7 separate regions of the Homo sapiens genome follow, and all the other regions are linked to region 3. A link means that fine-mapping ties the variant in region 3 to the expression of a gene that starts in the linked region. Tissue or cell type: whole blood. Region 3 holds a variant in brackets; each other region holds the start of a gene. Each region is shown on its reference strand, or each on the opposite one.

Region 1 (4,065 bases), not on the chromosome of region 3:
TGGGCAGCAGCCTCCAGAACCAAGCCTGGTTCCAGTCCTTCTCTCCCTGACACCCCAGCTCTTCTAAGCAGTATTTGCCTTGCAAATCAGAATCTGCCAACACCCACAGAGAAGCCAGCCTCTTCCAGGGACCAACAGGGCCTTGGAAAACTGAACTGACCTTGAAAGGTCAAAGTAGCATAGGCTGGAAAGGCTCTGGGGAATTCCAGTCCAGCCCCCTGACATTTGAGTCAGGGAAGATGAAGCCCAGCAAGGTTGACAGACTCAACTTGCCAATAAGAAGACTTGTTAATAAGAAGAGCAGGGAAACAACACAGCCCTCCCTTCACAACACCAGGTACCTACACAATCACTACCTTCTCCCCCAGGACCTGGAAGGGAAGACTCAATGGCCTCCTTCAGCCCTAAGTGTCCCACCACTTGCCCAGCATAAGTCCTTGGTATGGTCTAGTTCAGTGGTTCTCAATCTTGGCTGCACATTGGAATCACCTAAGATTTTGATTCAATTGAGTTGGGGGGTAGGCCCGGCTGTGGGTCTTTTAAAAAACCACTCAAATGATTCTCATGCGCAGCCAGGGTTAAGAGCCACTGGCATAGCTTAGATCCACCTGGATGCACCTTTTATAAGTCTCCTCATCACTCTCAGTCTTCATCCTAAATTCTGTTTACCTTCTTAGTAATCGCCAGAGTTTGGTCTTAGGGAACTTGAAGGTGACTGGGAAAATGGATTTATGGCAACTATCATGTATATATACATCACTTTATAGCTTGCAAAAAATAGACAAAAATCAGGGCTATGGTCCTGCACCCGGTTAATCTGCTCTGACTTGACAGGGATAGGGGAGGGAATCACTCCAGTTTCCAAAGCCTGACTGACACAAAGCAGGGTAAGAAGAGAGGGATCCGCCCCTTCATCCAAGGCTAAAACAGTTCCCTCAGGCAGCTCCTGTTGGGACCAGGCATAAAGGTGGAAGGATAGATGAGCTGACCTCTCAAGAGTACTGGATTGTGATCCCTCAGAACAGGATAAATGACTGCTTCCCGAGCACTTTATAAGAAAACTCAGGAAAAGGGAAGTGAGGCTGGGAGAGTATGGCAGTTCTACCTTTGAAACCAACCACATTATCCCCTTCTGTTTGAGCTGTTTTCAAGTCCTGCGTGGTGCCCTAAGTAACCTCCTGTGGCTCCTGCCAGTCAAGATCCAAGTCCTGGATAGGTCTTTCCCAATGCCCATCCTCCCAGACACATGCACCCATTCCACACGGAGACAGGAGAATGGCTGCAATGACCTCCCTGTACCAAATCCAACAGGACACCCTGGCATGCATCTGTAAGTATCCATAGAGCCATGGCTGTTCAGCCTTCCGCTTGTGGCTCCACCCCCGCCCTTGTTATCATCTCCCCATCCCCAGTTGCTGACTGTTAACAGGTGGTGGCAGGAAGGAAGTGGCAGCAGCTTGGGCTGAAGTCCCTGTTTATCCCTAGCTGTGTGTGCAGCCTGCTCAGGTCCTCTAGAACCAGGCACCATGGCAACCACAGTGATGTCAGACCCACTGTCTCCATGGAAACCAGCAAAGGTATTTGGGTCAACAAAACAAATACTTATGAGACCCAAATAGGAGACACTCTGAAACTCCTATACTCTGGGTTCCAAACCCTGATACCTCTTTCTTGGTTAGGTTAACCCAGGGTTCAAAAAAACACCTCTTCTCCCAAGCCAGCATCTCACTGCCTTATTAGGAAGTTCCTTCTGCTGTCTAATCTCCACCCTTCCCTGCTGTGTTTCCAGATCTTTTTCTTTTCATCGACCTTCTGGAAGAAAACCCACCTCCACTCCCTCCCTCCACCCCCTTCTTTTCATTCAGGCAGGATTCAACAAACACCTCCTGTAAGGATTATGACAGAGACTTCTGCTATTTCTAAAAAACAGCTAAAGGGGGAGCTCTCCCACTCAGCATAAAGCTAGGAAGTCTCGCCTCTAGTTAATTTAAACTCCTCTAACAGTTGCTCCTCCAAACCGCTAAAGCAAAGGATCTAGGGCCACTTGCCTGGGGTACCCAGAGCAAGTTCCTGTTGTGTTAGCGTCGGCACCTGGCCTTCCTCCCCCAGCCCAGAAATGAAAAGCAGCTCATTCCTTCTAGATTAGTTCCGCCTTCCCTTTTCCTTATTCCACCCCCTTCAAAGCGAATCTGTGGACCCCTTCCCAGCTAAGGCATTACCTGAACCAGCTCTTGCTTCGGTCTTCAGCTTAACTTGTTGCAGGCTTCCCTTTGTTTGCAGCCCGAGAAGAAAATCATGTGACCAGAAACTGACCAATGAAAAGTCAACTTCCCCAAGGGGGCGGAAACTTTTGGCCAATAAGAGCAGGAATTGAGAGCCAGGGGAGGGGAAGGGAGGTCTAGCGACACGGCCCTAAACCTGGGCTTACCTCCTGGTGGGCGACCGGGGTCCCAGCTAACCGAATCCTGAGTTTCCTGCCCTTCTTTCCCAGTGTCTAAACAGTTTCTAGAGGGAACCCCCACAAACTGAGAGAAAAGCAGACGGTGCCGTCTTCTGAGATGACGAAGACAAGGGGCCAGGTTGGCCCCAGGATAGACAGAGACAGCTGTGAGATGGGGGAAGGGAGAGGGACAGGTCGCAAATCCAGGGTGTGGAAATAGCCCTCCTGCCATTCTCCCCAATCTGCTCCAAAACAGACTGCTTAAAAGATGCCATTGCTACTTTAAAAAACGGTTGGGGGACGGGAACGATCTGAAAAACATCCCAAAATGAAATTTGCTAGGACAGAAGCAGCCCCTCCCCTCACCCTTAGAGCGACACTTGCTCCCTAACCCAAACAACTGGGAGGTGGGTGGGGTGCTAAACCCAGAAGAGCTCAAGCACTTGTCTTCCAGAGGCTGTGGTGCCAAATCCGCCTGGCTCCAGGCCTGGCCCAGGAATATGCTCAAAAAGGAAACTCAGTTTCTCACAGTGGAGACACAGGGGGATGGGCGGGGAAACACAGGCCTCCCTTGGCTCAGCAGCTTATACCAGGGTCAGCTCAGGGGCCAAATCTGCCATTCCCACTCCCAGGGACCCTGGGGAGCATACATATCCTCAACCCCTAAGCACCCTACCCAGCAGTGACAGCGGCTCATTCCAGCCTTTTCACACAGCAACAGCAAGGAGTCCTTGTCTGGGATTTTAAAATCATTTTATTAATCCAACAGTACAAAAGACCCCCACCACCACCGCATTCTGCCATCACTTTGTTCCAAAAAGTAGTGGAGTGAGAGAGCGAGAGGGAGCAGATCCAGCAAAAACACTCCCCCAGGGGCCATTTTACAAAATGCGGAGCAGGGGAAGACAACACAAAAACAGCAACAGATAAATGGGGCAAACAGAACAACAAACACAAGAGTTGAGCAGCGGGGTGGGGGTGGGGGGTTGCCATCTACGCCGTTTTAGTGTGAGGGACACTGGGAACGATGCCCAGAGGCTGCTCTCCTCCCAGCCTCAAAGGTTGTCAGCTCCACCAGAGCAGGGTCTTCTCTCCTCATGCCAGGAACTGAGAGAAGTGGGGGTAGGGGACCACTAGGTCTTTGCCACTGTATCTTGAGCTGGGGGACTCCTAACTTCTCCGAGGGCCACACCCCATGCCTGCCTTCCCCACCCCATGGAGGAATGTGTGCATGAACAGAAAAGGAGAACGAGCAGCGCTAAGGTCCTCATCAGGCCCCAGGCCCATCTCTGGCAGGCAGTGCTTAAAAAATAAAAAAAGACAAATAAAGCCCAGTGCAGGCCTTTGGCTGAGAGGAATGAGAATTGCTAATTAATCACCAGGCCCAAGAGGATATGAAAGAATAGCAAAGAGAAGCAACAAACTCCAGGCTCTTCTACCTTTGAGTACCATGGCAATGAGGATCCCGCCGCATCCCCTACCCACAGGCTGTGACAGGGCCTCACTTGGATCCTTTTATCATGGAGGAAATGAGGTATAGGGCTCTGCGCCTTTTCAAGCTTTCCTTCAATCAAGCCAGGAAGGCAGGGGAATAAGGGCGCCGAAAGTTGAAGAACACACGGAGT
Region 2 (4,065 bases), not on the chromosome of region 3:
ACAGAACAGACAAGGTCTGCTGGCAGACGGGATGTGGGGTGTGAAAAGAGCAATTAAAAATGACTCTTATGGGTTTGGCCTGATAGCAGGGTGGATTAAAATGCTATTAACTGAGATGGGGGAAAGTTAAGGAGAAGCTGGTGGGGCAAGAGTCAGGAGTTCTTTAGGACATTTTATCTTTGAGATGCCTATTATGGACTAGAGCTATCCAGTAGACAGCCTGATGTATGAGACTGGAACTCAAGGGAGAGGTCAAGACTTGAACTATGAGTTTAGGAGACTTTCAAGCTAGACATGCCATTTAAACAGGTAAAACTGGACAAGTTGGAAAAGCTGGTTAGAAGACTGAAGTGTGAAGCCATTTCCCATAAAGGCTGGAGAGTGGAGGAGGAGCTGGGAACCAGTGCTCAGGCGCACATGTGCGCACACACACACCCTGCTGAGGACTGGCCAGTGAGGAAAAAGGAAGCCCAGAGCATGTGGAATCTTAGAAGCCAATTGAAGCAAGTTATTTCAAGAAGAACTTTGTGAAGCAGATCAAATGTCGGTTGTTCTAAGACGATAAGGACAGATAATGGATTATTTTCCTTGGTTTCTCTGGCACTAATTTTAAAAATATAGTATTTGTAAAAATGGGCTAGGTGCAGTGGCTCACGCCTGTAATCTAGCACTTTAATAGGCCAAGGCGGGTGGATCACTTGAGGTCAGGGGTTTGAGACCAGCCTGGCCAACATGGTGAAACCCCATCTCTACTAAAAATACAAAAATTAGCTGGGCATGGTGGCAGGATCCTGTAATCCCAGCTACTCGGGAGGCTGAGGCAGGAGAATCACTTGAACCCGGGAGGCAGAGGTTGCAGTGAGCCGAGATCGTGCCATTGCACTCTGGCCTGCGGGACAAGAGTGAAACTCTGTCTCAAAACAAAAAAATTTGTAAAACTGATCCCACAATTCCCTACATTTGTAACTTTTAAAATTCAGAGGTAAATACATTTTTATTTAAGGAGGAATAATTCTTCAGAGCAAAATAATCTGAATATCACCTGGAATAGAGATTGGACAGAAAAAAGTGTGAACAGGGAAAACTAGGACAAGTCATATATGTAAATGAGAGTATAAAGAGTAAATGAGAGTGGTCACTGCTCACTGCAGCTTAACTAATCAGATAGTTAAGTTGCAGGCATAAAGTTTTTTTAACTTTTATTCCTCAAGTAATAAATTGAGGAAAATACAAATATGTACAAAATTTTTACAAAAGCTATCCATAAAAGGGCAAGTAGTAATATATAGAAAAGATCTACCAGATTAGTAACAAACTACCCCCATTAGGAAAATGGTAAATGATATGAATAGGAAATTCAAAAAAAGAAGAATTACAGATTTCCAATAAGCATAACTTAAGATATACACTGATATTGTAAGGAAACACAATCACCACAACCTTGCTAATCAAAGAAACTAATGATATTTATTGGAAAATAATGGGAATTTTTAATAGACTGGGTTAGAAGACTAGAAGTGTACGTCCCAAAATATTAATAGTTCAGCTGTAGGGTGAGATCACTGATTTTAATTTTCTCCTTTTATACATTTTTCCAGATTTCTCTACAGCAACTACGTATCATTTTGTAATAAATTTTAATTTTTCGATGCACAAAGCAATTGCCTGGAATTGCAGTTCGATATGAACCCAGGAGTTACGCTTGTAAAATAAACTATTGCTGATGTGACATTTCCATTTCTCAAGCAGACTGTAAATTTCTCAGATGTAGGTCATCATGTTATAATTAGGGTTCCATTGCTCATGATCTAGATGAAACACTTCTCCCTTTCTTGTGGTCTCTTCATTAATTTGGTCCCTACCGCAAAGGCAGGGGGATTAAAAATAAAATATCTTTTGACACTGGTTGGCAGGTGTACTAACACGTGTGCGGGAGGATTCCTGTTCTCGGCATGGTTCACGCCGGGCTCCGGCAGCGCCCTAGTACGTAAGGGGCTGCACTGGAGTGTGGACTGCCCGGTATCCTTAGAGAAAGTTTTGACAGTGTGACGCCAGTGTCGCCTCTAACCACGTACAAAACGCGCCATGCATTGGGTAGCTATTACAGTGCACATTTTTGTGCAGGAAGCTACCCCACCAGCGCAAGTATTTCAGAATCAAGATCGCACTCCCGTTTCCCCTTCTAGGGAAAGGATTCCAGATAAACACTGAGAAAACAGATTTAATATCTTAGGTCAAAACTCCAGGTCTTCCCATAGGAAGGCCCCTGGGCTGTCATTCTGAGGTGCCTATTTCCCCCGCGCCGTGTCCACGTCCACGAGTCCACGAACCCTCCGAGTTCTCTCTCCTCACCTGCCGAGGGCTCGCCCCTCTAGCCCCGCCCCGCCCCGCCCAGGACGCGTGACGTCACAACAAGCGCCGTGCGCCCCGCCCCCCATCGGGGGCAACCATTGTTCCGCCGGTCGCGCCGGAGCTGGGTTGCTCCTGCTCCCGTCTCCAAGTCCTGGTACCTCCTTCAAGCTGGGAGAGGGCTCTAGTCCCTGGTTCTGAACACTCTGGGGTTCTCGGGTGCAGGCCGCCATGAGCAAACGGAAGGCGCCGCAGGAGACTCTCAACGGGGGAATCACCGACATGCTCACAGGTTAGCACCGGGCCGGGCCCCGCTGGCTTTCTTCTTTCCTTCCAGCCTCTTCCCCTGCCTTCCTTCTCTCCCACACCGACAGTCCAGTGGGTAGGGTAGGTTCCTTGCAGCGGGTCGTCTTCCGTGGGGATCTCCCTCCGGCGCCCCTGGCTGGTTGTCAGTCCTGCCGGCTACACCTGGGCCATCGCTTGGGCTGCTTTTGGTCTGGCCCTTGGAGGAAACGGGTGGTCACTGTCTCTTAGAGGCTGCCATATCCCCTTCCAGAAAACAGTTCTCGTTTGTTTACTCGTGGTTCTTGTTCACCCGAGCCTTCTGTTGCCTTTCAGAACTCGCAAACTTTGAGAAGAACGTGAGCCAAGCTATCCACAAGTACAATGCTTACAGGTGGGACAGTGCAGCATTCTCGGGTAGCATACGTTCTGGGATACCCTGTTTAGTGTGGCAATTAACAGGACTGAGGGCCCAGTGGATATTTGGTCCATCTGCAAGAGCGGGAAAAAGCAAGAATCGAGGCTGGTACCTTACTATTTCTTGAAGAATGTGGGCAGTGCGTTATAGGATCAGTTCAGATAAGTTCCCAATTCTGATTGCAGATAGCTGTAGCCTGATACGTATTTTGTCATCATCAAACATGAATTACTAGAAATGCGGTGTAATTTTAACCGTAATGAAAGACAGCGGATGAAGTCCATACTGTGAAATATATGTGGTTCAAGGAATCACATTTTTTCTTTTGGTTGGTCTAAAGTTGATCCTGTGGGATCCTGATCCTGATCCTTGTTCCTTGTTCATGGGATCCTGTCCTTGTTCATCTCACCAGGGGCCTTATCCTATTCATTCTTTCCACATCCACCTGCTTCTACTCCTTAGCCTATATTTATTTATTTATTTATTTTTATTTGAGACGGGGTCTCGCTGTGGTATGATCATGGCTCATTGCAGCTTCAACCTTCCAGCCTCAAGTGATCTTCCCATCTCAGCCTCCTGAGTGGCTGGGACTACTACAGGCGCACGCCACCACACCCAGCTAATTTTTTTTTCTTTCTTTTTTTTTCTTTTTTTTTTTGTAGAGACCGGGTTTTGCTATGTTGCCCAGGCTGATCTCCAACTCCTAAACTCAAATGGTCCACACACCTTGGTCTCCCAGAGTGCTGGGATTCCAGGCATCAGCCTCGGTGTCAGCTCTCCTTAGCCTATAAATATGTGCAAGTCCCTCAGCTCTTAAAAGCAAAACCAAAACAATCTTAACTTCCCTCTAGCTAGCACCTTCCCTCTTTTCTCACTTTATGGTGAATCTTCTTGAAAAATCTTCATTCCTTGCCTGGACTTCTTAATACCTAATCATTTACTCAAGAAGTCCCAGTCCTTGCCTGGACCTACCAGTGCTCTGAAAATCCGCTCACCTACGTCTCATCTTATTGGAC
Region 3 (4,065 bases):
AAAATCATAGTAATGTGCAAACCAGCTGCCATCTATTTTTGTAGCCATAGTGAGAGATTATATTTTAGATGATGATAAAATAGTCACTAAAATGATTTTTAAATTGTTAAACTATTACAAGCATAGTCAGTACTTATTATGCTTTATTATGATCTGAAAGTCACACAAGTTTGTAAACTATCATTATTATAAGAACTGTTTTAAAACAGATGACAGGGGTTGTGTTTTTTCGTTATTGTTGTTTTGTTTTCTGTCTTTTAAGACATTTTCTGTGAAGCAATAGATTCATGAAGGAGAGAGAACAGCATTGATAGGAAGTAACTAAAACTTCATTTCATTCAGCTTGTGCACATGTACCCTAAAACTTAAAGTATAATAAAAAAAAGTTAATAGATCCTCCATGAGCTTTAATATCCAATGTCCTCATTGTGAAGTTGCCTCAATTACGTGTGCTACAATTTGCAAACCAGTTAAAAATAAAAATGATAAATTGGCAACTAAGTTCAGCCAGTCCTGGAATTCTAAAATTCTAGGATACACCATTGATTACTGGTAAAAATACGAAGATTCTCCATCATCTTGAATTTTATAATTCTGACAGCTTTATGGAAGGAACATATTCTGCCATTGTCCTGGGCATCACTCTACAAGCTTTCTTGCTTGTAAGTAGATCTGAGCCAAGTGCCAGGGCTGCAGAAGCAAGTTCTAGGGCTTTGGAGTCAGACAGCATTGGATTCCCACTGAATTAAGTACTGTGCTTCTGCGCCTAGCCTCAGGTTTACTATGTATAAATGAAGTCTAAATAACCACCTGGTGGGCTAGTGCAAGTATTAAGCACAATAATGCCTCTGAAAGGCCCAGGACATTCTTGGAACAGAGAAGCTCTGTTTCTGCTCAGCCTGTCTCCATTCCTGCCTGATTAGCTCAGGACGCCACAGAGAGCAGGAGGGGCAGCCACATAACAGGTTGGGGGGTGTGTCCATTGGACCAGCTTGCATATCATCTCACCTCTGACTGCACTGTCACTGGCCCTCATGTGCTCTCCCTTCTTTGTCTGCTAAGACCCTCCCAATGGTTTGCTGTTGACATCCAACCTCAGCTCTGTTCCCTAGACTCCGATGCACATCTCTCCTCTCCAGAACCTGCCTCTATGGAGTGGCATTAAACATCTGCCATCCTGAGCCCTCGCTGGTATGGTCCCAAGACCTCCCACAAATGTCACAAGTACCACCAGATACCTGAAACATTCTTTCCCCAACTCTTGTCAGAATGTCCCAACCATAGGCTCTCAGCTTCAGTTCTGCCTGCCTGGTGACATGCCGGCCTGAGGCAGTAGGACAGCCTTGCATGTTTGGCAATAGAGCTGTGCTTCTCTGAATGATTTAGGAATGATCTGGGTATATTAAAAAACTAAAAATCCAAGGTGTCTATTATGATACATGATTGCCAAATCTGCCACTCTTTATCTCCCAGTTGTTCCTTGTCCCATTACAATTTGGTTTAGAATTAACCCATTCCCTCCAACCGTTCTTGCTGGCTTGTAATTGTAATATGTATGCAATGGACACAAAATCTGAAGCATCTCTTCCTGAGTCCCGGTCTGCCTCTAACTTGCTTTGTAAATAGTCACTCTGTCTGTTT[A/G]AAGTGTCTCCACCCTCTTCCTTCTATCTTCTGTTAAGCTACAGGAATGCTGTTTTCTAAAATGCCATCCTTTATGGAAAGATCATGACATTCCTTTCCATAAAATCCTAAAATGTCAAACATAAGAATCATTTGGTTCTTTGTAATACAGCTCTAGCTTTACCTCCCACTATTTTTTCAAAACCTAATATGTACCTTATATTTATTTCTTCATGTATCTTACATTACAAACATATAGACCCATGTGCACTTTTCCAAATTGATCATATTCTTTCTTTTTACAGTAATGTTTTCTGGAAACAATCTCAAATTTAGAGATAAGTTTCAAGAACACTACTAAAAAGTTTGTACCTTCAAATCATTGATGGCAGGTTGTGGACATAATGCTCAATCTATCCCAAACTAGAGTACATTTTCTAAAAACAAATAAATTACCCAAAAACATATTCCATAAGTCTATCAAAATACAAAACTAAAATTGTTATATGACTGCCATTCAATCCACAAACCCAATTCAAGTATCGTCATTTGGTCCAAAATATCCTTTATAGCAAAGGGATCAAGTTTAGAAACATGCATTGCTTTTAGTTATAATTTCTCTTTAGTCTTCTTCAACCTGAAAAAGTTACTCAGTATCTCCTTGACTTTCATGTTCTTGACAGGTTTGAAGAATACAGGCCAGGTGTTTTAGGAATTTCTCCCAATTTGGATTTGCCTGGTGTCTCCTCATGATTTGCTGTGCTGTGATTTGTCTTGCTGTGTCCTATCAAGTGAAACACAGTTTCGATTTGTTTCATTACTAGTGATGTTGACTTTGATTGCTTAAAGTGGTAAGTGTCATGTTTCTTCACTGTAAAATTGTTTTTTTCCTTTTTAATTGAGGGTTTTATGGGTAGCTGCTTTGAGAGACTATGCAAATATCCCATGCCTCATTAAAGTTATAATTTGTTCACTTATTTATTGTCTATATCACTATGAACTATTGGTTCCCTATTAAATTCAGTGGATTACAATCCATTACTATACTGATGTATTTTAATGTTTAAATTCTTCTAGATTTGAACAGTGGGACCCTCTTCAAGTTTTCTTCTGTGTCCTTTTAATGTGTTCCTTTTCAAACCTTAACAACTTTCTTACTTTATCACAGCAAACTATTCCAAGCTCATGTCATATTTTCTCTGTTCTAGCTTTGAAATCAACCATTATTCCAAAGATCCATGGTTCCCATTTGGTGGAAATGGTATTGCAAAACCAAGAGCTGGATCTAGGTGTACTCATTGCTATTGAATGTTGCTGTTTCTACTATTTCTTGGAGACAGAGCTAGGGCATATCATTGTATAAATACCTACACATAGGTGATAATATGGACAAATCTACAGATAGCTTCGATTTCAATTCAGAACCATAGTTTTAGTTTGGTTCCTTTATATTTCTAACATCCTTCTCCAACAATAAGAAACTAGCTCTCATTATTCTTAATATTTATTTGATTAATCTCCTTGGCCATAACCAATCTCCCTCTCCTGCACTGATGCCTCTTTAATCCCAGTTGGCCCAGACACCTCACATCAGGCTGCATGGCACACATCCAGGTCTTGTTGCAAGCTAAAAGCCTACCAAGAAAAAGGACAACACTTACCCTATATTGTGTCTTCTTCCGAGTATCAACTCCACTGTGGCATCTGCCTATGTTCATTCACCCCGGTGCCTTCAGGTTATATTTTTGTGTTTTGTCCAGGGTTTTTAGCTGGTCTCTGGGAGGTTTGGTCCAGCAGGAGCTAACACAGCCATAGCGGAAGCTGCCATAGGATTTTGTTTATTTTCTTTTCCTTCTGTTTTGTATTTGTGAATTTTCTTTATAAGATCAAGAAAGGATTCCTGGCCGGGCGCGGTGGCTCACGCCTGTAATCCCAGCACTTTCGGAGGCCAAGACGGGCAGATCACGAGGTCAGGAGATCGAGACCATCCTGGCTAACACGGTGAAACCCCATCTCTACTAAAAATACAAAAAATTAGCCAGGCGTGGTGGCGGGCACCTGTAGTCCCATCTACTAGGGAGGCTGAGGCAAGAGAATGGCCTGAACCTGGGAGGCGGAGCTTGCAGTGAGCCGAGATAGTGCCACTGCACTCCGGCCTGGGCGAGAGCGAGACTCCATCTCAAAAAAAAAAAAAAAAAAAGATTCCTAGTTTCCTAAGAATTTTTATCATGAATCGGTATTCAATTGTATCTCATGCTTTTTCTTCATTTATGGAGATAATCATAAGATGTTTCTCCTTAATCTGTAAATGTGGAAAATTACATTGGTTAATGTTCCAATATTAAGCAAAATTTGACTTTTTGGAGTAATCCCATTTTAGTTGTCTGTATTGCTGTTTATTATATTACTGGATTTTGTTAATATTTTGATTAGGGGTTTTGTATC
Region 4 (4,065 bases), not on the chromosome of region 3:
AGTTAAAAGCAGTAATAATATAAAAGGAAAGAAACATAGGGAAAGAGACGGTGGGAGGCAAGCGTGCCACCTCTGCCCTAGAGGGCTCTGAGAGAGGCTCATGCCCCCATTCCCGTGTGAACCTCACACCCTTCCGCCATCCCCACTCCTAACGTGGGTCTTACTCACGCATCTCCCAGGAAGAGGCTGGGCCAGACCTCATCGATATGGTTCAGTGTGGCAGCCTGACGGACCCACAGCAAGCGCTGCAGCGAAGCCAATGTGGGCGGCTGGTAGGGAGATGCCTGGACTGCCCCATGGATCTTGGGCCTCCGGAGGTCCTGCTTCTGCAGTGAGTCCATCCTGGAACAGAGTGGACACCGCAGTGGCTGGAGGCAGGCTCCCAGAGGGTGGATCCAGCTGATGGGGAAGCCCATGGTGCAGTGCCTAGGTGCCACGGGGATGCTGCAGGAAGGGCTTCATCTATTTCACATGAGGTATTAACAAGCTCAGCTGGGGCTGAGGCCTAGAACCCTTCCCCAGGGAACAAGGGAATCAAGCCTTTGTCACTGCTATGGAGCTGGGCAGACCTCTCTCCTGCCCTCTGCTGAGCTGCAGATGTATGAAGCTTTGGCCAAGGGGCCCTTGGAGTTCCCTGTTTGTGGCACTAGTCAGTGCAGATCTCATCCCTAAATCAGCTTGGACTTTGTAGGGATGAAAGCCCCAGATGGCTGTGGCTCTCAGGGCACCCAGGAAGCCCCCACCAACCTAAGCAGCTCATCTCAAGCCCCCTCACCTGCTACTTCCAGTACTCATCCTCAGACCCCCGTCCCCTCCCACTTTCAGGGGCTTGGAGATCAGAGCCTATCTCCAGGTAAGAGGCCAGGACTGTGAACTGGTATTTGTTAGCAACTCCGCATGGAATGAGCTAATGCCTCTTATAAGCCTGATGCCTCTGGCTGGGCACGGTGGCTCACACTTGTAATCCCAGCACTTTGGGAGGCTGAGGCAGGCAGATCAACTGAGGTCAGGAGTTCGAGACCAGCCTGGCCAATGAGGCAAAATCCTGTCTCTACCAAAAATACAAAAATTAGCCAGGTGTGGTGGTCCACTCCTGTAGTCCCAGCTACTAGGGAGGCTGAGGCAGGAGAACCTTTTGAACCTGTGAGGCAGAGGTTGCAGTGAGCTGAGGTCACACCACTGCACTCCAGCCTGGGCAACAGAGCGAGAGTCCATCTCAACAACAACAAAAAGCCTGATGTCTCACTCGTGGGATATCTGTTCCTATTTTACCCAGGAGGAAGCTGAAGCTCAGAATGTTTTAAAAGTGATGCCCAAAGCCATACGGCTCATGAGTAGCAAGGCTGGGGTTTTAGTCCATCCCCAAGCCTTTCAGTTACCATCTTTGGGGCCTCCAGAGAGTGGTCACTAACCCATCTGCTTCCTCAAGGGAGCCTGGTACTGCTGAGCCACACACCTGCCTACAGGCCCTGGGTTTTCCTCCTTACCCCCACGACTCAGGCCAGCACTGGATGTCAGGCCCCACCCGGGTCAGGTAGCTTGTTTCAGGCATCTGCTGGCTGAAGGAGTCAGGGACCCTGCGGAGCTGGATTTTCAGCGGCACCAGAATATGGGCCTGGTGCCGTGTTGGAGAGGGGGTCCTGTCTTTGCTAACTGCCCCTGATCCCCTGGACCAGTGACTAGGGAAGGTGCATACTGGGAAGAACATCTTTTCCCTTTGGTAGGCAGTGCCAGGACCAGAAAAAGAAACAGGCACCCAGGAGGCTGCCGGCTTGGCCAGGCTCACCCAGTGGGAGGCTGTCGGGCAAGGCGGAAGTGAAGACCAAGCTGTCCTCCTCATCCCCCACTGTGACCTCTCCAGGTGGCTGAGTGGCCTGCCACCTACCTGGGGCATGGCCTGGGGCCGGGAATGGGGGAGTGGGTGCAGGGGCAGGACTCTGCCTGAGCGGAACAGGGCTGGGCAGGTTCTGCCCAGAACACAAACACTGTGAAGCGGCTAGAATTCCAGGTGCTGGCTGGGGCGCCCATGGGGGGTGGGGCCTGAGAGCCGACTGAGGCCTTGTGGACTGCAGTGGGCCCTCCGGTCCCTCTAAACCCCCAGGCCTCCTCTCTGCTTGGTATCTGTTTGGGATTGAAGACCGTTGGTTCCATAAACCTCCATGAAGATGGGAGTCTACCTGAAGAGGTGGGAAGAGAACTTCTGAGGCAGGGAGGAGAGCCTGGCTCCCCCAGCACTCTGCCATAACTCATTCTGTGGCCACGAGCAAGTCTTTGCTCCCATCTGGACCACAGTTTATCTTCCCATGCTAGGGATGCTGGACTTAATTTTCAGGATGCTCTGGGGGTCTGACCCGAGAATGAGAGAGGAGTGTCTGGATATGCGGTCACTGCAGGGCAGAGGGCAGTGTAGTGTGGTGGAGTTGGGGAAGCCCCCAGGACCCAGAGGAGTCCAACAGCCACACTGGTCTGGAGCCATCAGGTGGGGCTGCACCACCCCAGGCAGGAGATGGGGCTTTGGGAAGTGGGACAGGCTCCGGGCTCAGGCCTGCGGAGCTTGGCATGGGGTGAGGCTGCCCCCTGGTGGCCAATGGGTGTGTCACAGCCCAGCCTTGCCAGGGAGCAGGCAGCCAGGCTCCACCCCCAGGAGGCTCCAGAGGGGTCAAGGATTTGGGGGCTGGTAGGCCACAGTGCATGCCTCTGCCTCCGAGGGGACCTAGGCCCAGGTCTGAAGAACGGGGCTCTCCCCTGGACTTAGCGCTATGCCTGGTCAGGCTCCACCTAATGCCTTGCTCCCGATGCTCAGGGTGTTGCCCCACCTGTCCACTCTAACCCACTGGGACCCAGCCCATCCCATCAGTCAGAGTCAGGCCCGGCCACCCCCCCAGGGACTCGTCCTTTAAGCCCCAGTCCCTCCCAAGGAGGGGAAGTCGGTGGTTGTGGCAGCTCCGCCGGTTTCTGACACCTGAGACTTGGTCTTCGGAGGGCCCTGCCTGACACTACATTCCATGTCTCCTTGTCCCCAGCTGGGTGAAGCACAGGCCCAACGTCCAGCAGGGCCAGGGCCCGGCCGAGCTCCCCTCCCACTCCCTGCAGTCTTCCTTCTCTCCCTGATCCCGTGCTCCTCCTCGCCCCCTTCCTGCCTCCCCCGCTCAGCAGAGCAGCTGCCTCTGTAGGCAGGGCTTTTCCTGGCTGCTCCTGTGCTGCTGCTGTTTGCAAGTCCATGCACTTCTTTTCTGTGTTTGCATCTCTCCTCCCTGGGTCACTCCCCCGTTTGCCTCTGTCTCCCATCCTCCCCCAGGAAGCTCATGTGCCTTTGCAGCCTCCCATGACGCTGCTCTGTGTGCCCAAGACATCGGGCAGAGGCACAGGCTTCCTTGGGGCAGGGGGCAGCTGTTTGCCATCCACCTCTCAGCTGCAGTTTCAGATAGTCCCCTGGACTTTCTTCCTGCCCATCCTTTCTGACTCCACTCCAGGGAGGCCAGACAGAAGTGTGGCCACAGGCCATGTGGGGCTGGAGATCTCAGGGCAGGACCAGTGAGGAGTGTGGGGAGAAGGCCTGCAGAAGGGTGGCGTGTGGCTGCCAGTGGGGAACAGCTGTGGGTCTCTGTGCTCAGCCTGAGGGTCTTGGGGAGGGCAGACCTGGGTAGAAATCTCAGGTCTGGTACTTGCAGCTATGTGGTCTTGTCTTCACCAAGCCAGTTTCTTCAGTGGGGCTGCTGTGAGAATTCCATGTAATAATTAATGTAAAGCACCTCCCACAGGGTCTGTCTTATGGTAGATGCCCAATAAATGGCACGTCTTACTATTATTATCACTACTATAATTACTCTTACCCTTTCCAGCCCCAGCCATATCCTATGTGGAGGGTAACTTCCCTACGGGACAGTGAGATTTCTTCTCTATCTCTGTATTTCTTGATATTTCTTTCTCTGTCCAGCAATAATTGTTATATTTAGCACTCATCAAGGATGTACTATGTGCCAGACAGAGCTAGGTGCTCACATTTTCTCATTGAATCCTCACAGTGCCTTTATGGAGCAGGTAATATTATCATCCCCATTTTAC
Region 5 (4,065 bases), not on the chromosome of region 3:
TGGTTTTAAAGAAGTTCCTCCTTCTAACCAATAAATCCCACCCTCTATCCTGAGTCCACTTCCTCTTATTATGACTCTAGTGTAAAAGAGTAGGGTGAACACACACTACAATATGACTCTTTGTGCACTTAGTATTTCACTCACTTCCACTCTTTCCAGTCTGCTCTCCTTTATACTTGCATTCAGTATAATAATAGCAGCTACCATTCACTGGTACCAATTCTGTACCTGACACCACACATATACATATATTGGTCCCTCCTCCAAACTCTCCAGGATCCCAATTCATATATAACACTTTGAAAGACTTAGGTCTGATGGAGAGACCCCTTTGCCCACAATGGGGAAGCAGGAAATCTGGGACTGCAGATAATGACTCTGTGTTCTAGTAATATTTTTCTTTTTGGGTCTTAAGTTTCCATTATCTATGCCTATTCTGTGCCTCTTAGGAAGGCAGAGACACAAAAACTTCTTAATTACAAAGGCTAAGGGTCTTTGTACCCTTGCTAAGCTATTTCCAGGCACTTCTGCTGACAGCCAAGCCATCTCTTGCCCTTTCCTTAAACTACAGTTAGAAAGCTTGTTGAGTTCTATCTATTTACATTCTAAATTCATCATGGGTACCTACTGTTTGCATGGGCATTGTGGAAGAGGAGACGAAATCCAGTTCCTGCAGTCGAAAAGCGTCTAGTCTCTTTGGAAAAGCAAGATAGACAACTATAAAAATTCTAACTATGCAAGGTAATAATTCTATGCTGGGAAACAGGACGCATGTGAATATGTGATACATGGGAGCCTTTCCTGGCTGAATCCAAGGTCAATCATTCATTCGGTGAAAAGCTGAACCTTAATGGATTAGTTTCTTTCTTAGAATGAACTTTTACAGACATGTTTTTCAAACTCAAGTCCAATGGGCTATGATAATCCACTGTCCCATAACACTGTCCCATGTCCCAAGTCACGGCAAGTGGAAACACCTACCCCAACAACAAGCCCAAGACAAAATAGCAGCAAAGACTGTTACTACCTACCTGATTGAGGACAGGGAAGGAGGTATGCAGCGACTAGATTCTGTCCTGTTGCACTGACCCAAGCAATCAGACTCTTGCAGCAGATCTCCTCCCAATAAAACTTTCATGCCATAGACCAGGGGTGACCCAATCCAACAACAGCAGAGACAGGTTTTAGGTTACATTTCTCCCTCACCGGGACGGCCTTACTATTTCTTCTCACTCCTGACCACATACCACAATCCTCCACCTCCACCACCACATTCCTCCTGGCCTGGAAAGATGGAGACCCGCCTTAATGCAATCAAGACGGGAATTCCCCCAAAATAACAGCTACCACTTTGCTAATCAAGTGGCCCGTTTTAACAGGGAACTCCACCTCCCCAACTCCCGCCCCTTCCCTCAAACGATTCGCGTAAGCAATGGCTCCATTTTCTGTTCCGGGAATCCTGGTACTTCCTAAAGAAAGAAAGCGGATTGGAAGACACAAACTGAGGGCCAGTGACAAGATGCTCCCTCCTCCTGTGAGACCGCCCCCGCTCCGCCTGGGGAGGAAGGCCCCACCTCTCTTCTCCCAGGAAGATCAGATCCCCCTCCTCCTTCTCCTGCCTCCTCTCCACCCTCTCCCCACTTGCTGCCCTCTTCCCAACCTGCGGTTCCCTAGACTCGAAAGCGCAACCTCTACCACAATAGCGCCCATGTGGTGCCCCAGCAGCCTGCCCTGTTGGCTAACCCCCAACCCCCCTACGCACCCCTGCCCTATGATGGGGGAGGGGGTGTAACCACAGCAAGGCTTCTCTCCCGTCTCCTATTGCTAAGGTGGGGGAGGGAGAGGGAGTAGAAGAAAGCAGCATTCCCTAGCCCTTTAACAGAAAAGATACAAACAGCCATCACCGCCCCCTCATCACCTCTCCTCGGACGGTTTTCCTCTCCCTCAACAGCACACCTCCTGCAGGCGACAACCTAACTGCAGCCCAGGTCGCCCCCTTGAGCGAGGCGGAGGACAAATCCGTGTGCGCCCCCCACCCCCACCCCAGCTCTGCGTCCTTCAAATGCGGGGGCAGGCGTGAAGCTGGCCCGACGCACCCTCTCTGAGCTCTCGGGTGGGAAGAATCCCACCGCCCCACGCCAAGCAGTGCCGGGCGGGGCCCGGGAGGCGCTCTATCTCCTCAGCCCTCACCCTGACCGAGCCTCTTCTCTACCGGGACCCGCCTTCCCTTCCCAGCCTCTCACCTGTTCCTGCTATCAGCTGCGCCGCTGCGGCCGCCGCCTCTGCCCCGCAGGTTCCGCTCCGCTCCCTCTGGCTCCCCAAGCCGACTTCAGCCCGGCTGCTGCCCTGGCCCACTCCCCGGCTCCCTCCTTCCTTCCCTCCACCTAGCACCGGAAGCCGCGACGGCGACTGGAGCTGTGCGGCGTACCCCCACCCCCAGCCCGGGATACTTCCCACCTCCCCGATCGCGCGATAGCTGCGCGGTAGCTAGCGGCAGTTCTCGCGAGACCCATCACCATGGCAGCGGCTGCAGCACCGGCGGCCGGGCGCTGGAGCTGGAGTCAGGGCGGGGGCAGGTGTGGGGGCTGTGGGCGGCGGAGGCGGGAGCCGTGAATGGGGATGAGACAGTGAGGACTGAGGTGACAATCCCAAGCTCCAGGGTTGTGCCTGGAATTTAAGGACTGAGGCGGCAAGTTGGCTGCGTAGGAGACGGGCTGGGCTGCGGGGCCCAGGGGCTCCTTGGGCAAAGCCAGCATCGGGATATGGGTGAACAGTCGTTGCTGTGGCATGCCTTACCCAGCCAGACTTCATCTTTATTTCTTAATCTGGGCTAGCTGCCATCCCCTGAAAGCCCTCACCGCACCATTGTTGTTGCTCACTATTCCTGAGACTAGATTACTGTGGGGTCTGAATCAAGAGATCCTTTCCCATAAGGAAGAGGAAGGAGAGTGATGAACTTAAGAGGCTAAAGGAAAACAGCTGGACTCTGAGCCAGTTAAGTTGGAACTTGAAAGACGGAGAGTGGAAACCTAATATTCAGAAGTGTGGTTTGAGGAAGTGTGCCTAGATGAGTAGGGATTTTAGTATCCCAAGGAAAGGTGAAGGACTTTGCACCCATATTTCTTGCTTCCTACCCACTCCTACTTCCCTCACACTCCGTTTTGCACCTGGTCTAGACATGCAGAACTGCCTTGAAACAAAAATAGCTGTGATAGAAGGGCACTAGTAATGCTAAGAACAGAAGGTTCCTTTTTTTTTTTTTTTTTTTGAGACAAGAGTCTCACTCTGTCGCCCAGGCTGGAGTGCAATGGCACCATCTTGGCTCACTGCAACCTCTGCCTCCCGGGTTCAAGCGATTCTCCTGCCTCAGCCTCCTGAGTAGCTGGGATTACAGGCGTGAGCCACCGCGCCCGGCCAATAGAAGGTTCTCTAAGTGCCCTCTCTCCTCATTTACAGCAGTATAAGGGAATGAACACATGGCTCTTCCCTAAGGCTTGAGCCCAAATTGTTGCTCTTATGAATTTATTGCCTTGGTTGATTTTGTTTGTTTGTTTCCTTGCTTCCAAGAAGAACTAAGCTGGGGCCAGGCCCTGTGTTCACACTTGTAATCCCAGCACTTTGGCAGGCTGAAGTGGGCAGATCACTTAAGGTCAGGAGTTTGAGACCATCCTGGCCAATATGGTGAAACCCTGTCTCTACCAGAAAATACAAAAATTAGCCGGGCATGGTGGCACATACCTGTAATCCCAGCTACTTGAACTGAGGCCAGAGAATCGCTTGAACCTGGGAGGCGGAAGTTGCAGTGAGCCAAGATCGTACCACTGCACTCCAGCCTGGGCGACAGAGTAAGACTTTGTCTCAAAGAAAAAAAAAAAAAAAGCTGGTAGGTGCCATATATGTCGATCTCCTTGTCCTCATCAATCCCTGGTGTATGCACTTACAGTCCCTTAACCCAGTCTGTTCTCTCTCTTATGTTAACCTGATAACATGACCCTAGAATGTCAAGCTAAGGGGACCTTAATTTAAGATGGTAAGGGATGAGATGGATGACAAGGAACCTGTTTA
Region 6 (4,065 bases), not on the chromosome of region 3:
CAGTCACTTGTAAGACAGCAGGACCTGCAGACTACAGCACAATCAAACTCAGACAAAACCCTGAACCAGTGAGAACCATTAGGAAGGAAAGGAACAGAAAATGAACCAACCTGAGTGTTAGGAGACTTGCATCTAGTCCTGACTCCGGTACCAACCGAATGCATGTCCCTGGACAGGAAACCTCTCTGAGTCTCGATTTCCTCCGTGGTAAAAAGGAGAGGGTTAAACCACAGGGTCCCGAGGGTCCCTTCCAGCTGTCACATTCTGGAGCGTATGAGATGAGGTAGGCACACAAAGTGGACAAGATGTGGCTAAGAAAACAAGCTACACATCAAGCTCATCTGTAGCATAGGTGCTTAAGAAAACTTTGCTGCTGTGTAATATTAGAACGGAAGGTTGGTTTCCAGTAAAATGCATTAACTTTGGCTCAAACCAAGATGATGGGTACCGGGCATGGGGGTGGGGAGGCAGTTGAAGATCCACTGAGCTTTGTCTCAGGGCAGCCCTGCTCATCGTCCTACTTTACCTTCCACCACGGTGCTCAAGCCCACACTGAGAGAGAAATTTCCAGCTGCAAAAGGGAGAAGAGAAACGCTGGAATACTAGTATCGGACGTTAGGACATGGTTGTGGTGTTTTAAAAATCATTTCATCATCTGGAGTTTGACCCCGAGGGGAGTATTTTCACCCTTCAGCCCTCTGAAAGCATTCACTAGCATCTGAATATTGTTCTGAGTTTGTTGGAGCAGTGAAATCTGGTGAGAGAGAAGGGTGGAGGAAGGAAGGAGCTGTTGTATTTGGCGGCTGGACTCAGGTAGAGGAAACTGCTACAATCCCGGGAAAGAACAGAAAAGTAGAAAGGGACGAGTTCCCACACGCAGCCAATGTCCATGGCCTTAACTGTGCTTGGGAAGGAAGATCCTGGGCCAGGGGTGTACCCTCGTTTTTCAAAACTAAACGTGTCTGAGACAGCTACAAAGTTTATTAAGGGACTTGAGAGACTAGAGTTTTTTGTTTTTTTTTTTTAATCTTGAGTTCCTTTCTTATTTTCATTGAGGGAGAGCTTGAGTTCATGATAAGTGCCGCGTCTACTCCTGGCTAATTTCTAAAAGAAAGACGTTCGCTTTGGCTTCTTCCCTAGGCCCCCAGCCTCCCCAGGGATGGCAGAAACTTCTGGGTTAAGGCTGAGCGAACCATTGCCCACTGCCTCCACCAGCCCCCAGCAAAGGCACGCCGGCGGGGGGGCGCCCAGCCCCCCCAGCAAACGCTCCGCGGCCTCCCCCGCAGACCACGAGGTGGGGGCCGCTGGGGAGGGCCGAGCTGGGGGCAGCTCGCCACCCCGGCTCCTAGCGAGCTGCCGGCGACCTTCGCGGTCCTCTGGTCCAGGTCCCGGCTTCCCGGGCGAGGAGCGGGAGGGAGGTCGGGGCTTAGGCGCCGCGGCGAACCCGCCAACGCAGCGCCGGGCCCCGAACCTCAGGCCCCGCCCCAGGTTCCCGGCCGTTTGGCTAGTTTGTTTGTCTTAATTTTAATTTCTCCGAGGCCAGCCAGAGCAGGTTTGTTGGCAGCAGTACCCCTCCAGCAGTCACGCGACCAGCCAATCTCCCGGCGGCGCTCGGGGAGGCGGCGCGCTCGGGAACGAGGGGAGGTGGCGGAACCGCGCCGGGGCCACCTTAAGGCCGCGCTCGCCAGCCTCGGCGGGGCGGCTCCCGCCGCCGCAACCAATGGATCTCCTCCTCTGTTTAAATAGACTCGCCGTGTCAATCATTTTCTTCTTCGTCAGCCTCCCTTCCACCGCCATATTGGGCCACTAAAAAAAGGGGGCTCGTCTTTTCGGGGTGTTTTTCTCCCCCTCCCCTGTCCCCGCTTGCTCACGGCTCTGCGACTCCGACGCCGGCAAGGTTTGGAGAGCGGCTGGGTTCGCGGGACCCGCGGGCTTGCACCCGCCCAGACTCGGACGGGCTTTGCCACCCTCTCCGCTTGCCTGGTCCCCTCTCCTCTCCGCCCTCCCGCTCGCCAGTCCATTTGATCAGCGGAGACTCGGCGGCCGGGCCGGGGCTTCCCCGCAGCCCCTGCGCGCTCCTAGAGCTCGGGCCGTGGCTCGTCGGGGTCTGTGTCTTTTGGCTCCGAGGGCAGTCGCTGGGCTTCCGAGAGGGGTTCGGGCTGCGTAGGGGCGCTTTGTTTTGTTCGGTTTTGTTTTTTTGAGAGTGCGAGAGAGGCGGTCGTGCAGACCCGGGAGAAAGATGTCAAACGTGCGAGTGTCTAACGGGAGCCCTAGCCTGGAGCGGATGGACGCCAGGCAGGCGGAGCACCCCAAGCCCTCGGCCTGCAGGAACCTCTTCGGCCCGGTGGACCACGAAGAGTTAACCCGGGACTTGGAGAAGCACTGCAGAGACATGGAAGAGGCGAGCCAGCGCAAGTGGAATTTCGATTTTCAGAATCACAAACCCCTAGAGGGCAAGTACGAGTGGCAAGAGGTGGAGAAGGGCAGCTTGCCCGAGTTCTACTACAGACCCCCGCGGCCCCCCAAAGGTGCCTGCAAGGTGCCGGCGCAGGAGAGCCAGGATGTCAGCGGGAGCCGCCCGGCGGCGCCTTTAATTGGGGCTCCGGCTAACTCTGAGGACACGCATTTGGTGGACCCAAAGACTGATCCGTCGGACAGCCAGACGGGGTTAGCGGAGCAATGCGCAGGAATAAGGAAGCGACCTGCAACCGACGGTAATGACCCTTTCCCAACCATAGAATGTGTTTGGGGCCCCGCTTTGCCTGCTGGAGGGTGTTAACCTTAGCTTGCTTTTCGGCGTATTCTGATTTAGCTTTGGGAGAGCTAACTTTATTGGTCTTAGGTGTTCAGTGCTACCTGGCCCACTGCTTGTCTGTTTGTGACTTTTAAGTCAGAAACTGGAGATGGTAAGATCCGATAATTTCCCTAACTTAATACATCGCGGTCCCTCTCACTAGCAACTCCTAGGTATGTGACAAAGTTGGGATGTTTATCAACGGTCCGCCTCCTGGCTAGGGAAAGAGCTCTGGGGCGGAGAATGCACTTTCTGTTTTTTGAAAACAACCTCATTTTGTGCCCTTAAAAGCCACTGGGGATGACGGATCCAGGATTGTGGGTGGAGGTAGTGGGTTTTTCATCCCCTGACTATGGGGCCAACTTCTGCCAGCCATTGTTTTTTCTAATAAAGATTGTGTGTTCTTTTTAAAAATTTCCCCTGCGCTTAGATTCTTCTACTCAAAACAAAAGAGCCAACAGAACAGAAGAAAATGTTTCAGACGGTTCCCCAAATGCCGGTTCTGTGGAGCAGACGCCCAAGAAGCCTGGCCTCAGAAGACGTCAAACGTAAACAGCTCGGTGGGTTGATCACTAAAGGAGCACGCACTGGAACCCGGGGCCTTCAGACCTCACGATACCTGATCTTACTGGTTGCTGGCAAATTAAAAGCTTATGGGGTTTTGTTTTGTTTATACTTCGTGAGGTCAAAAAAGTAGCAATGGGGAAGGCTGGGGATACGGTAATTCCTCAGAGTTTCTATGCCCAGAGATACTTTCTCTTCAAACTGTTGACCAGAGCAGCTACTTGTAACCCAGGCCCCATCGGGTAGGAAGGTCGTTTCCCTGTGAGTCCCACTAAAACGTGTTGGGAGCAATAGGTTCTTTGCCCATCCGAACAAGAACTAGGGTACTCCCTCAGTCCGAATTAATGAGAATTAATTTCCTAGAGGTTCAGCTTGAGTCGGTAACAGATTTTGAGCCATACATGGAAAAATGGCAAATACATGATTAAGTTTCAATTTTGAGGGGGAATGTTTGGTAGAAATTGCTCATCTTTGGTTATGCAAGGGATTAGAGATGTGAATAGGATGGTATGTTGTGTTCTTTGACATTTTAATAAACTGTCACTTTCCCTGTTGTCTCCTAAGTTTGGAGAGAGAAGGAACCAGTATTTGCAAAAACCAAATGGAAAGATAAAAAAGTTACTAAAGTTTCTACAGAATTTCTGGTAACACTGAAGTTGCAAAGCAGAAGTTAAATTAACTCTTGTCAGTAAGCAATCCAGGAACAC
Region 7 (4,065 bases), not on the chromosome of region 3:
CAGTCATCTCTGTCCTTATCTTTTGCCCGGGTAACTTCACTGTTGCAAATTCATCATAAAATAACGTCTTAATCTGTTCGGGCTGTTAGGACAAAATACCATAAAGTAGGTAGTTTATCAACAACAGAAATGTATTTTCTCACAGTTCTGGAGGCTGGAAAGTCCATGATAAGGCATAAGCGGATTCAGTGTCGGGTGAGGGCCTGCCTGTGGTGCACAGATAGTGCCTTCTAGCTGTGTTCTCACGTGGTTGAAGGGGCCGACTCTCGGGGTCATTTGATACCGGCACTAATCCCATTCATGAGAGCTCTCCCTTCAAACTCTGTTCACCCCCAAAGGCCCATCTCCTAATACCATCATCACCTTGAGGGATTAGGATTTGAACATGAATTTGGGGGGTCACATTCAGATAATGTTATATATAACTTAAAAAGAACAAAAATGTGGAATTCATGGAGATGTTCATTGCAGTATGGATTACACTGAAAAACTGTAAACAACCTAGATGCCCAGTAAAAGGGAAACAGCCAAGAAAAGTCTGTGTCTTGTTCACTCGCTGGCAGGAAACATAGAGCAGGCACGGAAAGGAAAGGGACTCGAGGAATGCGCTGTACCGACAGGAGGCAGCACCCCTTTGCCCGAGGGGCGCAACGACAGAGACCTAAGGCTACCTGGGCCGGAGCCGGGTGAGGCCGCGGAGAACGCACCCCGCTACGCGTCTGCCGAGACGGAGGCGGGCGTTTCGACCACTGCCCGATCATGCGCTTACTCAAGTAGGATTCCGAAAAAATTCAGTCGCGCGTCCCTCCTGAGGTTCCGCAGCTGGCCAGGCCCGGCCCGGGCTGGTGCGGCTGCGCACTGCAGCCCAGCGGAGCGGGCCCGGGAGGAGCCGGGCGGGGACCGCGGCGGCCAGAGCTCCTGTCAGCTCCGCCGGGCACACGCAGGCCGGGGCGGGCGGCGCGGCTGTCCCCGCCCCGCACGCTGCTGGGCCCGGCAGCTTCAGAGGCTGGCGGACCCGCGCGGGGCCGGCGCAGCGGAGCGCGCCGGCGGCCCGGGGCCCAGCGGGAGCGCGGCAGCGGCGCGCGGAGCAGGGGGCTACGGGTGGGCGGGCGCCCGCCTTCGCCTGCGTCGCTGCCTGCACGCGGGCCGCCGTCCCCGGGCGTGTGAGAGCCGGCAGCTCGGCCGACTGGGCCCGGAGCGGCGCGGAGGCCGGGCGCTGACGGTAACGGGCCGGGTGCGCGCGCGGGAGGGCTCCGGCTGCCCCGACAGAGGCCGGGCTCGGGCGGCGGGAGTGCGAGCGCCACTGCGGCGTCAGAGGGGCCAGGAAGGGACAGGAGGCTGCCTGAGGCCCGTACCTGGCGCCTGTCTCTGCGGTCCCCGGGGCCGACGAAGTCGGAGCGGGTGGGGAGGGAGCCGGGCGGGCGGCCAGAGACCTGGCGGCAGGTGCCTGCCCTCTGTGATCCAACTCTCTCCCCAGCTCCACCCACATTGGCCTAGACCCAGTCTCTAAGGGCTGAAAATATTGCCCGGAAGCTCCCGAGCAGAATCAGATCGCGCTAAGTAGGGCACAACGCAGAGGCGACAAAGCTCCTCGGCCCCAGGGCCCGCGGAGCAGACTCCGGAGCGCGGTCCCGCCCACGCTCGGCTCCGCAGTTAGCGTCCTCCTTCCTCCTGAGCAGGCAAGCGGAGCCCGAGGGCGGTGGCGGCGGGGGGCACGGGTCCCCTGAAGTTGCCTCGCAGCTGAGCACTGGGCCCCGTCTCTCCCTTCCCAGGGGGCCTTCGGCGTCACTGCAGGCTTCCTAGGGGTCCCCTAAGTGCTCTGCAAACCGCGGCTGGAAGTTTCCCACTGCAGTGAACAGTAGAGAAACAGGGAGAACACACAGGGCTTGCTTTATGCTAGAAACACAAGCATCTTTCTTCTTTATTAGAAAGAAACTCATTCTGTGTTTCTGAGAAAGGATCGTGCCAGGCACTGTTTCTGGTGAGTGCCAGTTTGACCCGAAAGGGCACTGAGAAAGGCTTTCCTATCAGTCTCTTTGGGTTCTGGCTAAACTTTTAAATCAAACAAAATAGAGACTAGCTTATTCACCTGAAACTAGAAGCACATGGCCGAGGAGCCTGAACAGGCACCTCCTATCTAGGCAGGGAAGCTGTGTAATCAGGAGCTTGTGTGGTGCGCTCCAGTCGGAGCTGGGACTCTTATCCTGGGCCCGTTTTTCATAGCACCAGCCAAAGGAGAGCGTCCTCTCCACCCTAGCGGCAGAGCTGCTACCAGGACCAGGTGGGCCAGCCTCAGATGTGCTGCTTGTGCTACTTGGAGCCAGGCAAATGGGTGTTCCTTTGGAACAGCCCTCAGGAACTCACTGGGGTATTTGGTGGAAAGACTGCCACGGGCATTTTGCATGTTGGAGCTACAGATGGTGTCCTTCCTGCCAGGTGTGTGTGGAGGCCAGTATGAAGCTGAAAAAGCAGGTGACAGTGTGTGGGGCTGCCATCTTCTGTGTGGCAGTCTTCTCGCTCTACCTCATGCTGGACCGAGTGCAACACGATCCCACCCGACACCAGAATGGTGGGAACTTCCCCCGGGTGAGTCGTGCCTGGTTGCTAATTTCTTTGTATACAAGTCACCTGGGCTCAGGGTATGCACCTCCCACCCCGCCGCCTCCCCTCCCACCCCCCGCTGGAGGGTAATGTCAGTACAGGACAGGAGCCTTCCTTCCCAATAGTCAGGTTTTGTAGAAACCCTCAGCTAAAAACAGTGATGGCGAAAAGAAGGAAGGAAGAAAAAATGTCAATGGCAATGAGTATTGTCACTCTGTTCTCCTGAATTCTTTTCTTTCTTTTTTTTTTTTTTGAGACAGAGTCTCGCTCTGTCGCCCAGCCTTGAGTGCAGTGGCGCGATCTTGGCTCACTGCAACCTCCGCCTCCCAGGTTCAAGCAATTCTCCTGCCTCAGCCTCCCAAGTAGCTGGGACTACAGGAGCCTGCCACCATGCCCGACTAATTTTTGTATTTTTAGTAGAGACGAGACGAGGTATCGCCATGTTGGCCAGGCTGGTCTTGAACTCCTGACCTCAGGTGATCCACCCACCTTGGCCTCCCAAAGTGCTGGGATTACAGGTGTGGGCCACCGCGCCCAGCCCCTCCTGAATTCTTGGCAGACATTGCTAATTGATTGCAGCATTCTTTGCCATTAAGCCCCGCTGAAATCCTCAGCACAGGCAACACCGATTGTTGAGAATAGGTAGGTGAAAGGAAATCTTTGCCATCCCTGAGCTAGAGAGTGATGGTTCTCCCAACCCAAGTGGAGTGTAGTCCTCAGTGGTGATCTGCACAGCTCCCTTTATCTGAACGGTGTCATCTATCCCTCTAGGCTCATGGTCTGGCTTTGACTGATGAGGGAAGAATTGTACTCAGGCCTCAGCTGGTAGACCCCAAGCAGAGACCCTCCCTGTGGCATAAGGAGCTGTGTGTGATTGCTTTCTGGTTTTTTGGCAGAGCCAAATTTCTGTGCTGCAGAACCGCATTGAGCAGCTGGAGCAGCTTTTGGAGGAGAACCATGAGATTATCAGCCATATCAAGGACTCCGTGCTGGAGCTGACAGCCAACGCAGAGGGCCCGCCCGCCATGCTGCCCTACTACACGGTCAATGGCTCCTGGGTGGTGCCACCGGAGCCCCGGCCCAGCTTCTTCTCCATCTCCCCGCAGGACTGCCAGTTTGCTTTGGGGGGCCGGGGTCAGAAGCCAGAGCTGCAGGTAAGAGTCAGAGCTGGCAGGGACGTACAGTGGCCACGACTGGGGTACTGAGCTGCAGTTCACCTGGCAGATGCTCACTGTGTCGGAGGAGCTGCCGTTTGACAACGTGGATGGTGGTGTGTGGAGGCAAGGCTTCGACATCTCCTACGACCCGCACGACTGGGATGCTGAAGACCTGCAGGTGTTTGTGGTGCCCCACTCTCACAATGACCCAGGTGAGGGCCCTGCAGACTCCTGGGAGCTGGAGTGTGGAGTGGGATTTCTGATGGCCAATACAAGGGAGGGACGTCGAAGAAGATGGTGGCATCCT

What was found. PIP is the estimated chance that this variant, and not a neighbour inherited with it, causes the effect. A credible set is the group of variants that fine-mapping cannot tell apart.
Region 1: PBXIP1 starts here. The variant in region 3 is the best candidate, but not a certain one, in a credible set for the expression of PBXIP1 in whole blood (TOPMed, PIP 0.62).
Region 2: POLB starts here. The variant in region 3 is the best candidate, but not a certain one, in a credible set for the expression of POLB in whole blood (TOPMed, PIP 0.55).
Region 4: DUSP13B starts here. The variant in region 3 is the best candidate, but not a certain one, in a credible set for the expression of DUSP13B in whole blood (TOPMed, PIP 0.53).
Region 5: it holds the start of ARF3, and the variant in region 3 is the best candidate, but not a certain one, in a credible set for the expression of ARF3 in whole blood (TOPMed, PIP 0.53).
Region 6: it holds the start of CDKN1B, and the variant in region 3 is the best candidate, but not a certain one, in a credible set for the expression of CDKN1B in whole blood (TOPMed, PIP 0.56).
Region 7: MAN2A2 starts here. The variant in region 3 is the best candidate, but not a certain one, in a credible set for the expression of MAN2A2 in whole blood (TOPMed, PIP 0.59).

What each region holds. Positions count from the first base shown.
Region 1 is chr1:154,953,850-154,957,914 of GRCh38, forward strand. PBXIP1 (PBX homeobox interacting protein 1) reads right to left here and starts at 2,250. Exons shown (of 11, transcript NM_020524.4): 1 at 2,220-2,250. PYGO2 (pygopus family PHD finger 2) reads right to left here. Exons shown (of 3, transcript NM_138300.4): 3 at 3,177-4,065.
Region 2 is chr8:42,336,045-42,340,109 of GRCh38, forward strand. It overlaps POLB (DNA polymerase beta), which reads left to right and starts at 2,450. Exons shown (of 14, transcript NM_002690.3): 1 at 2,450-2,641; 2 at 2,968-3,025. The coding sequence starts at 2,581.
Region 3 is chr7:50,251,017-50,255,081 of GRCh38, forward strand. No RefSeq gene overlaps it. Among named protein-coding and RNA genes, the nearest start is that of IKZF1, 52 kb to the right of the region's middle. The variant A/G (reference allele first, on the strand shown) is at 1,642.
Region 4 is chr10:75,097,544-75,101,608 of GRCh38, forward strand. DUSP13B (dual specificity phosphatase 13B) reads right to left here and starts at 1,969. Exons shown (of 4, transcript NM_001363514.2): 1 at 1,488-1,969; 2 at 169-342. The coding sequence starts at 1,894. It also overlaps a transcript of SAMD8 not described here.
Region 5 is chr12:48,955,067-48,959,131 of GRCh38, forward strand. It overlaps ARF3 (ARF GTPase 3), which reads right to left and starts at 2,421. Exons shown (of 5, transcript NM_001659.3): 1 at 2,244-2,421. RefSeq lists enhancers at 618-1,613, 1,669-1,748.
Region 6 is chr12:12,715,601-12,719,665 of GRCh38, forward strand. It overlaps CDKN1B (cyclin dependent kinase inhibitor 1B), which reads left to right and starts at 1,768. Exons shown (of 3, transcript NM_004064.5): 1 at 1,768-2,714; 2 at 3,225-3,354. The coding sequence starts at 2,240. The coding sequence ends at 3,346. It also overlaps a transcript of GPR19 not described here. RefSeq lists silencers at 1,152-1,721, 2,146-2,334 and enhancers at 1,742-1,791, 1,872-1,971, 3,822-3,901, 3,972-4,021.
Region 7 is chr15:90,901,754-90,905,818 of GRCh38, forward strand. MAN2A2 (mannosidase alpha class 2A member 2) reads left to right here and starts at 1,549. Exons shown (of 23, transcript NM_006122.4): 1 at 1,549-1,679; 2 at 2,437-2,586; 3 at 3,498-3,755; 4 at 3,826-3,970. The coding sequence starts at 2,455. RefSeq lists enhancers at 590-639, 2,480-2,539 and silencers at 810-1,079, 1,100-1,529.